2 linked regions of the Homo sapiens genome follow. Changing the gene in region 1 together with any one later gene gives a genetic interaction. Each region holds a gene or a part of one and is shown in the gene's direction. Other genes may lie near its edges.

Region 1 (5,102 bases):
GTTTGTCATGGCAAATGCAAACATCATATAAGTAATAAAATGAAAATGTTTTAAAGTACACTCTGAGCCAGGCACAGTGGCTCATGCCTATAATCCCAGCACTTTGGGAGGCTGAGGTGGGCAGATCACCTGAGCTCAGGAGTTCGAGACCAGCCTGGGCAACATGGCAAAACCCTGTCTCTATTTAAATTATTTAAAAAATAAAGTACACTGTGATGGCAACTGTGTGAAAACATAAACATTTGTTTATTAATTGATCCAATAATTTAAGCATGTGCTATATTTAATAATCAGGATATTCAGTACTAACTGAAACAGAAACAGCTTCTGACCTAATAGAGTGTTAGGAAAAGGTAGATAACCTTATTCCAAGACAATAGGGTTTAACTTTGTAGTGGTCTCATGTTCATCGTGAGGTTTTATTTTATTTTATTTTATTTTATTTATTTTTTTGAGATGGAGTTTTGCTCTTGTTGCCCAGTCTGGAGTGCAGTGGCACAATCTTGGCTCACTGCAACCTCTGTCTCTTGGATTCAAGCAATTCTCCTGCCTCAGCCTCCCAAGTAGCTGGGATTACAGGTGCCTGCCACCACACCCAGCTAATTTTTGTATTTTTAGTAGAGACGGGGTTTCACCATATTTCCAGGCTAGTCTCGAACTCCTGACCTCAGGTGATTCATCCTAAGGATTTAATGAAAGCTACTTATCCCTAGGGGGAAAATGCACCTATGCAAAGTAATATACAAGGTGATATGTACAAACAAAGGTTATTTTGTTAAGGAGGTTATATTGAGCTGAATGCTTCTCCCAAATAGTCCTGCGTCCTGCTTTTTCTGTCTGGCAGCATGAGTAGATCTGTTTCTTCTTTGACTGGACAACCCTTCAAATATGTGAAATATGTAATCATGTCTCTTTACATGGGATAAATATCCTTCATTCTATTAAGTGTTCTTGGTGCATTTTTTCCCCCATACTTATTTCTGTCTTTATCATCCTCTTTTGGACACACCATTGTCTGTCAGTGTCCACTAAAGTCTTGTCCAAACTAAACACATCTTGGCTGGGCACAGTGGCTCACACTTGTAATCCCAGCACTTTGGGAAGCCAAAGCAGAAGAATTGCTTGAGGCCAGGAGTTTGAGACCAGCCTGGGCAACATAGTGAGACAACTATCTCTACAAAAAAAATTTAAAAATTATCAGGCATGGTGGCACATGCCTGTAGTCCCAGCTACTCAAGAGGCTGAGGTGGCAGAATTATTTGAGCCCGAGATTCAGGCTGCAATGAACTGTAATCACACCTCTGCACTCCAACTTGGGCGACAGAGCAAGACCCTGTCTCAAAAAATGTAATAATAAGGAAAAACAACATGTCCCACATATTGTGTAGCCACTTAGGCACTATGTTTGTCAGGGCTGCCATAACAGACTAGGTGGATTAAACAACAGAAATGTATTTATTTTCTCAGTCTTGAAGGCTGAAAGTCAAAGAACAAGGTGGCAGCAAGGTTGGTCTCTTTTTGTTTGTTTGTTTGTTTTTTGAGGCAGAGTTTCGCTCTTGTTGCCCAGGCTAGAGTGCAATGACGCAATCTCTGCTCACTGCAGCCTCCGCCTCCCAGGCTCGAGTGATTCTCCTGCCTCAGCCTCTGGGTAGCTGGGATTACAGGTGTGCACCACCACATCCGGCTAATTTTTTTTTTTTTTGTATTTTTAGTAGAGGTGGGGTTTTGCCATGTTGGCCAGGCTGGTCTTGAACTCCTGACTTCATGTGATCGCCTGCCTCGGCCTCCCAAAGTGCTGGGATTACAGGCGTGAACCACCGCACCCGGCCTAAGGTTGGTCTCTTCTGAGGCTTTTCTCCTTGGCTTGCATAGGGCCACCTTCTCCCTGTTTTCTCACGTGGTCTTTCCTCTGTGTGTGGGAGTCCCTGGTGTCTCTTTGTGAATCCAAATTTCCTCTTATAAGGACACTAGTAAGATTGGATTACGGCTCACCCTAATGGCCTCAATTTAAATTAATCACTTCTTTAAAGGCCCTGTCTCCAAATACAGTCACATTCTGAGGTACTGGAGTTTAAGGTTTTAACATACAAATTTGGGGGCAGAGATTCTCCCCATAACTGGCTCCGTATCTTTGGGTTGCGGTAATGGGAATATGGAAGGACTTAACTTCTTTTTTTTTACTGTTCAGTGTAAAAATTAATACACAGGAATAAATCAGTTTTTTTTTTTTTCTTTTAGCCAAAATCTGAAGATGAAGAAGGCTGGAAGAAATTTTGTCTGGGTGAAAAGTTATGTGCTGACGGGGCTGTTGGACCAGCCACAAATGAAAGTCCTGGAATAGATTATGTACAAGTAAGGGCTGTGTGGATAAACAGAACAAAAAGCATTTTAATTTTGGTGCACCACTTAATATAAGGGGTCAGCAAACTCTACCCTGGGCCAAGTCCAGTTCATGGCCTTTTTTATATCCATGAGCTAAGGATTGTTTTTAGGTTTTGAAAGAGTAAAAAAGAAACAAATAATATGTGGCTGAGACTTTATGTGGCCTGCAAAGCCTAAAATATTTGCTGTCTGACTCTTGATAGAAAATGTTTGCCAACCCAGACTTAGTTTATTAGCTCTTCAACCTAACAAAACAGCTTAGTTTCTGAAACAATTTACTGTGACTTTTTTTAGTTTGGCTTCATATCCCTTATGTTTGGCTTGGTAATCATTTTATGAGTTGGATAAGATTCATAGTTTTTTTAAATGATGAGGCATCAGGCAAACAGTGTTATGAGTAGCCAGGGAAAAAATGGAAATCGACACAATTAGATGCTTTAAAATGCATAATCACATCTATCACTTCATGGGCCTGTAAAAAATAAATCACATATTCTAAAGATGAAATGTTGAGGATATCTTTAAAATTCATGTGGCTGTAATCATAAGTTATGTAGACAACTCCTTGTCCTTCAGGATTTACCTGCCCCCAAGTTTGCAGGTGTTCCTTGAGAATCCAGTGCATGCCTCTGCATTAGCGCTTACTCCCTATAGCATGTAGTTCTTTTCAGTTCAACAGGTATTTATTATTTGCTATATGGTGCCACATTGTGTTTTTCACATTTAAAACTAATTTTTCCTAAAAATGTAAAAAGCCCCAAGAATCAATAAAAAGACCAAGAATCACCCCTCCCCTGCCCAAGAAAAAATAGCCAAAGGATATAGATACCTCACAGAAAGGAAATAAAATTATTCTTATATGACAAGATGCCAAAAATCACTTGTAATAGAAGTATAACATAACTATGCCAAGGTGCTATTTTTCAGGTAACATATTGGCCAAGAAAGTTTGATACACCATATTGACAAGAGCTGGGGAAACAAGCACTCTTAGACGTGGTACAGGAGTATAAATAGACTCAAATCTTAGGGAAGTTAATTTGGTACTCTTTCTATATAACCAATTGATCTTTTGGATGATATCCTTAACATATGCTACATTTCAAAAATAGCTATATATATATATATATATATATTTTTTTTTTTTTTTTTTTTTTTTTTTTTTGAGACAGGGTCTTCTTCCGTCATCCAGGCTGGAGTGCAGTAGTGCACTCATAGCTCATTACAGCTTCAACCTCCTGGGCTCAAGCAATCCTCCCACGTCAGCCTTCAACATACCAGGGGCAGCAGGCACCCACCACCACACCCAGCTAATTTTTAAATTTTTTGTAGCGATAAGTTTTTTAATTTTTTAAAAAAATTTTTTTGTAGAGAGAAGTTTTCACCATGTTGCAAGGTTGGCCTGAAACTCCTGGGCTCAGGCAATCCTCCTGCTGGGATTATAGGCATGAGCTATCATGGCTAGCCAAAAATGGTTTTTAATTTATAAAGAATTAAAACTTACTTATTTAGCTTATTTTCAGAGAATACATACAAGTAAAATACACCATGTTAAAAAAAACCCTTAAGGAAGTAAGCGTTTAATGTATATCCTCTTAAGTTTCTCACAAATCAGTGGTATTTTCATAATTAGCAATCACAGCCTCAGACTCCAAAGTAGACTTTTAAAAATTGAATCAAATTAGGTTTTAAAAATGTCATTCTAATTCAAGTGTCCTTAATTCTTGAAAATATTAGCTTTAGCTGAAGATTTTGAAATGGTGTATACAACATATTAATGTCATCTTATCAATGTTACAGTTTTATTGGATATACTTAATAAGTTAGTTTTTTCAAGTACTATCATGTAAAAAATTTTTAGTCTTTAACATTTTACTTACTAAAATCATACTTTATTTAAAAATTTACAAATTCAGACCAGGTGAGGTGGCTCATGCCTGTAATCACAGCACTTTGGGAGGCTCTGGCAGGTAGATCACTTGAGCTCAGGAGTTCCAGACCAACCTGGGCAACATGGCAAAACCTCATCTCTACCAAAAATACAAAAAAATTAGCTGGGCGTGTTGACATGCACCTGTGGTCCTAGCTACTCGTGAGGCTGAGGTGGGAGCATCACCTGAGCCCAGGAAGCAGAGGTTGCAGTGAGCCAAGATCGCGCCACTACACTCCAGCCTGGGTGACAGAGTGAGACCCCATCTAAAAAAAAAATTACATATTCAAAATTTAAGGCGTTATTTTCTTCCGCATTACAAACATAGTAGTTTCCGGAATGTCTCATTGTTATGGACAATGAAAGAATTTTCTTTTATTTGTTCTTTGTTTCTAAACAACAGTGTGGCAAGAAATTCACCAGTTTGAAAAAAAAAAATGAAGCTTATAATACCATTTAGTAAAATTCAGTCTCATTTTTTCTTTCAGATTGGTTTTCCTCCCTTGCTTAGTATTGTTAGCAGAATGAATCAGGTAAAATTAATAATAGAGATATATGCATTCTTTTGTTTGCATTGTGTGTGAAAGTATTTGAATTGTTAATACATATACTGAATTCTTACAGTATGCAAGACTTTGTCCTAAGCTCTTTAATGGTTCTTATTTAATCCTTACTACAACCCTCTATGGAGAGTTATTATTGATAACTACTTTTTATAGATGAGGAAACAGCATTTGAGGTTAAGTAACTTGCAGGTGGTTTTTCAGCAAGTAAATGGCAGTACTGAGAT
Region 2 (3,500 bases), on another chromosome or scaffold:
TTCTAGTCGGGTGGGATGAGAGACGGAGAAAAGAAATAAGACACAGAGACAAAGTATAAAGAAACAACGGTGGGTCCAGGGGACTGGTGCTCAGCACACCAAGGACCTGCACCGGCACCGGCCTCTGAGTTCCCTCAGTTTTTATTGATTATTATTTTTCATTATTTCAGCAAAAAGGAATGTAGTAGGACAGCAGGGTGATAATAAGGAGAAGGTCAACAAATTACATGTGAGCAAAAGAATGTATATCACGATTAAGTTCAAGGGAAAGTACTATGCCTGGACGTGCACGTAGGCCAGACTTATGTTTCTCTCCACCCAAACATCTCAGTGGAGTAAAGACTACAAGGCAGTATCACTGTAAACATGTCTCGCCTCCCGCCACAGGGCAGCTTTTCTCCCATCTCAGAGTTGAACAAATGTACAATCGGGTTTTAAGCCGAGACATTCAGTTCCCAGGGGCAAGCAGGAGATAGTGGCCTTCCTCCATCTCACCTGCAAGAGGCTTTCCTCTTTTACTAATCCACCTCAGCACAGACCCTTTACAGGTGTCGGGCTGGGAGACAGTCAGGTCTTTCTCATCCCACGAGGCCATATTTCAGACTATCACATGGAGAGAAACCTTGGACAATACCCCGCTTTCAAGGGCAGAGGTCCCTGCGGCTTTCCACAGTGCATTGTGCCCCTGGTTTATTGAGACTAGAGAATGGCAATGACCTTTACCAGATGTACTGCTTGTAAGTATTTTGTTAACAAGGCACGTCCTACACAGCCCTAGGTCCCTTAAACCTTGATTTTATACAACACATGTTTTTGTGAGCTCCAAGTTGGGTCAAAGTGGCTGGGTCAAAGTGGCTGGGACAAAGCTACAAATCAACAACATCTCAGCAAAGCAACTGTTTAAAGTACAGGTCTTTTTCAAAATGGAGTCTCTTATGTCTTTCCTTCCTACATAGACACAGTGACAGTCTGATCTTTCTTTCTTTTCCCTACAACTTATTATTATTTTTGAGACAGAGTCTTGCTCTGTCACTGGCCTGGAGTGCAGTGGCCCGATCTCGGCTCACTGCAACCTCCACCTCCGAGGTTCAAGCAATTCTCGTCTCAGCCTCCCAAGTAGCTGGGATTACAGGCACCTGCCACCACATCTGGCTAATTTTTTGTGTTTTTGTAGAGACAGGGTTTCACTATGTTGGCCAGGCTGGTCTTGAACTCCTGGCCTCTTGATCCACCCGTCTCGGCCTCCCAAAGTGCTGGGATTACAGGCGTGGGCCACACCGCGCCTGGCTTAAATGATTTTTTAAAACTAAGTGGCTTAATATTCTGCAATTTTAATCTGAGAGGGGTGGAACAGAAAGCCCCATACCTCATCAGAACCTGGGAGTTGATGAGAAACCATTTGATGACAACCTCCTAGGGGAGATGGGGAGGGAAGTGGGAGATGGCCTCATAGCAGCTTCTGGCAGACCTTCCACCCTCGTGTTCCAGGAGGATTAAACAAGCCTTTCAGCCACAATTCGGTAAGGTGTGGCTCAAGCCATTGTCTCCTTGGATATATTCAAGGCTCTCAGGGAACACTGTTGATAGTGGTATTGGTATTATACTGAAACTTTGTGTTGAGAACCAGGGTTTTGAGAACCAGGGTTTTCACTATGGCAAAAGGAAGATACAAGTAAGGAATGGAGGCATTTGAATAGGGAGGTGACAGTACAAATTACTGATTTAAGGCCAGGCATAGTGGCTGATGCCTGTAATCCCAGTTCTTTGGGAGGCCAAGGCAGGAGAATTGCTTGAGCCCAGGAGTTCGAGACCAGCATGGGTGACATGGCAAAACCCTGTTTCTACAAAAAACACAAAAATTAGCCAGGCATAGTGGTGCTGTCCTGTAGTCCTACCTACTCAGGAAGCTAAGGCAGGAGGATCTCTTGAGCCTGGGAGCCTCTTGAGCAGAGGTTGCAGCGAGCTGAGGTTGTGCCACTGCACTCCAGCCTAGGCAACAGAGCGAGCCCGTCTCAAAAAAAAGACAAAGAAATTTAGGACAGTATGCAAGATTTGGCCTGGATTCTTCTGAGGATGTGAAGTAATGGAAACAGTAAGACTGTTCCAGACTAGGGGAAGACTAGAGACCTAATAGCTGGATTCCATGTGATCTTTTGTTGGACTTTGGGATTGGAGGTGAGAGTAGAGAAGGCATAATGCACGTTTTTGAGACGAGGGAAATGTGAATATAGCCTGTATGCCTACACTCAAGTCTGAAGACATGTAAACCATGTCTATACTAACCAGCCAAATATTTGAACACTAAAAGGAAGAATTTTCTTAATGTGGTAATGGTATCATGGTTGTATAGAATGTTCCTCCTCTTGGGAGATGTGTGTTGAAAATAGGGTTTGACGTCTAAACCTATTTTGTTTTGGCAAAAAGGACGTGTGTCTGTACAAAAGAAGTGGAGCCAGTATGGCAAAATGTTTACAAGGACTCTGGGTGAGAGGTACATAGGTGCTTACTATACTGTTTTGTTTCTGAATTTGGAATTTCTCAAAATTAAAAAAATATCTACTGAGGAGCTTTTCGTTTTAACTGGTGGGGAATGGGTTCTGGGTGGTTTTGCCCCTTTTCTTTTTAGATTCAAGAAATCCATGGTGAAAGGTTTGGATTCCTATGAAGAAAAGGAGGATAAAGTGATCAAGGAGGTAAGTTAAAGTAGCAGTCCCTCACCCTTTTTGCACCAGGGGCTGGTTTCGTGGAAGACGGTTTTTCCACAGATGGACCCAGGCAGGGGATGGTTTCAGAATGAGACTGCTCCACCTCAGATCATCAGGCACTAGATTCTCATAAGGAGCACGCAACCTAGATACCTTGCATGCCCAGTTCACAATAGTGTTTGTGCTCCTATGAGAATGTAACACCACCACTGATCTGACAGGAGCTCAGGCGGCAGTGCTGTTGCAGCCTGCTTCCTGACAGGCCACAGACCAGTACTGGTCCACGCCTGGGGGTGGAGGGCCCAAGTTAAAGGAAAGGCCTCTGAAGAAACTGGCCCCCATGATCCTGTACCTGTCTAAGCAGCCTCTCTCCCACAGATGGCAGCTCAGATCCGTGAGGTGGAGCAGAGCCGACAGGAGGTGGTTCGGTCTGTCTTAGAGGTTGGTTTCCCTCGGAGGATCCAGACCAGTATCCAAATCCACTGATCCCTGGCATTCCCAGGTCCAGCATTTCATGGACTAGTGCTTCTTCTTCTTCTTTTTTTTTTGGAGACAGAGTTTCGCTGTGTCACCCAGGCTGGAGTGCAGTGGCACGATCTCGGCTCACTGCAACCTCCACCTCCCAGGTTCAGGTTCAAGCGATTCTCCTGCCTCAGGCTCCCGAGTAGCTGGGATTACAGGTGCCGCCACCACGCCTGGCTAATTTTTATATTTTTAATAGAGGTGGTGTTTCACCATGTTGGCCAGGCTGGTCTTGAACTCCTGACCTCAGGTGATCCACCCGCCTCAGCCTGC

The links. Genes that interact genetically often act in the same process or in processes that back each other up.
Region 2: changes in GEMIN2 (region 1) and CENATAC together harm fitness more than expected from each alone (negative genetic interaction), as found in Homo sapiens cells (one large-scale study listed by BioGRID).

Annotation. Positions count from the first base shown.
Region 1 is NC_000014.9:39,120,192-39,125,293, forward strand, and holds part of GEMIN2 (gem-associated protein 2), read left to right. Parts: intron 1-2,238; coding exon 2,239-2,352; intron 2,353-4,800; coding exon 4,801-4,845; intron 4,846-5,102. UniProt on the Homo sapiens protein: The SMN complex catalyzes the assembly of small nuclear ribonucleoproteins (snRNPs), the building blocks of the spliceosome, and thereby plays an important role in the splicing of cellular pre-mRNAs.
Region 2 is NC_000011.10:119,008,138-119,011,637, forward strand, and holds part of CENATAC (centrosomal AT-AC splicing factor), read left to right. Parts: intron 1-2,626; coding exon 2,627-2,693; intron 2,694-3,083; coding exon 3,084-3,146; exon of another isoform or gene 3,147-3,174; intron 3,175-3,500. UniProt on the Homo sapiens protein: Component of the minor spliceosome that promotes splicing of a specific, rare minor intron subtype. Negative regulator of centrosome duplication.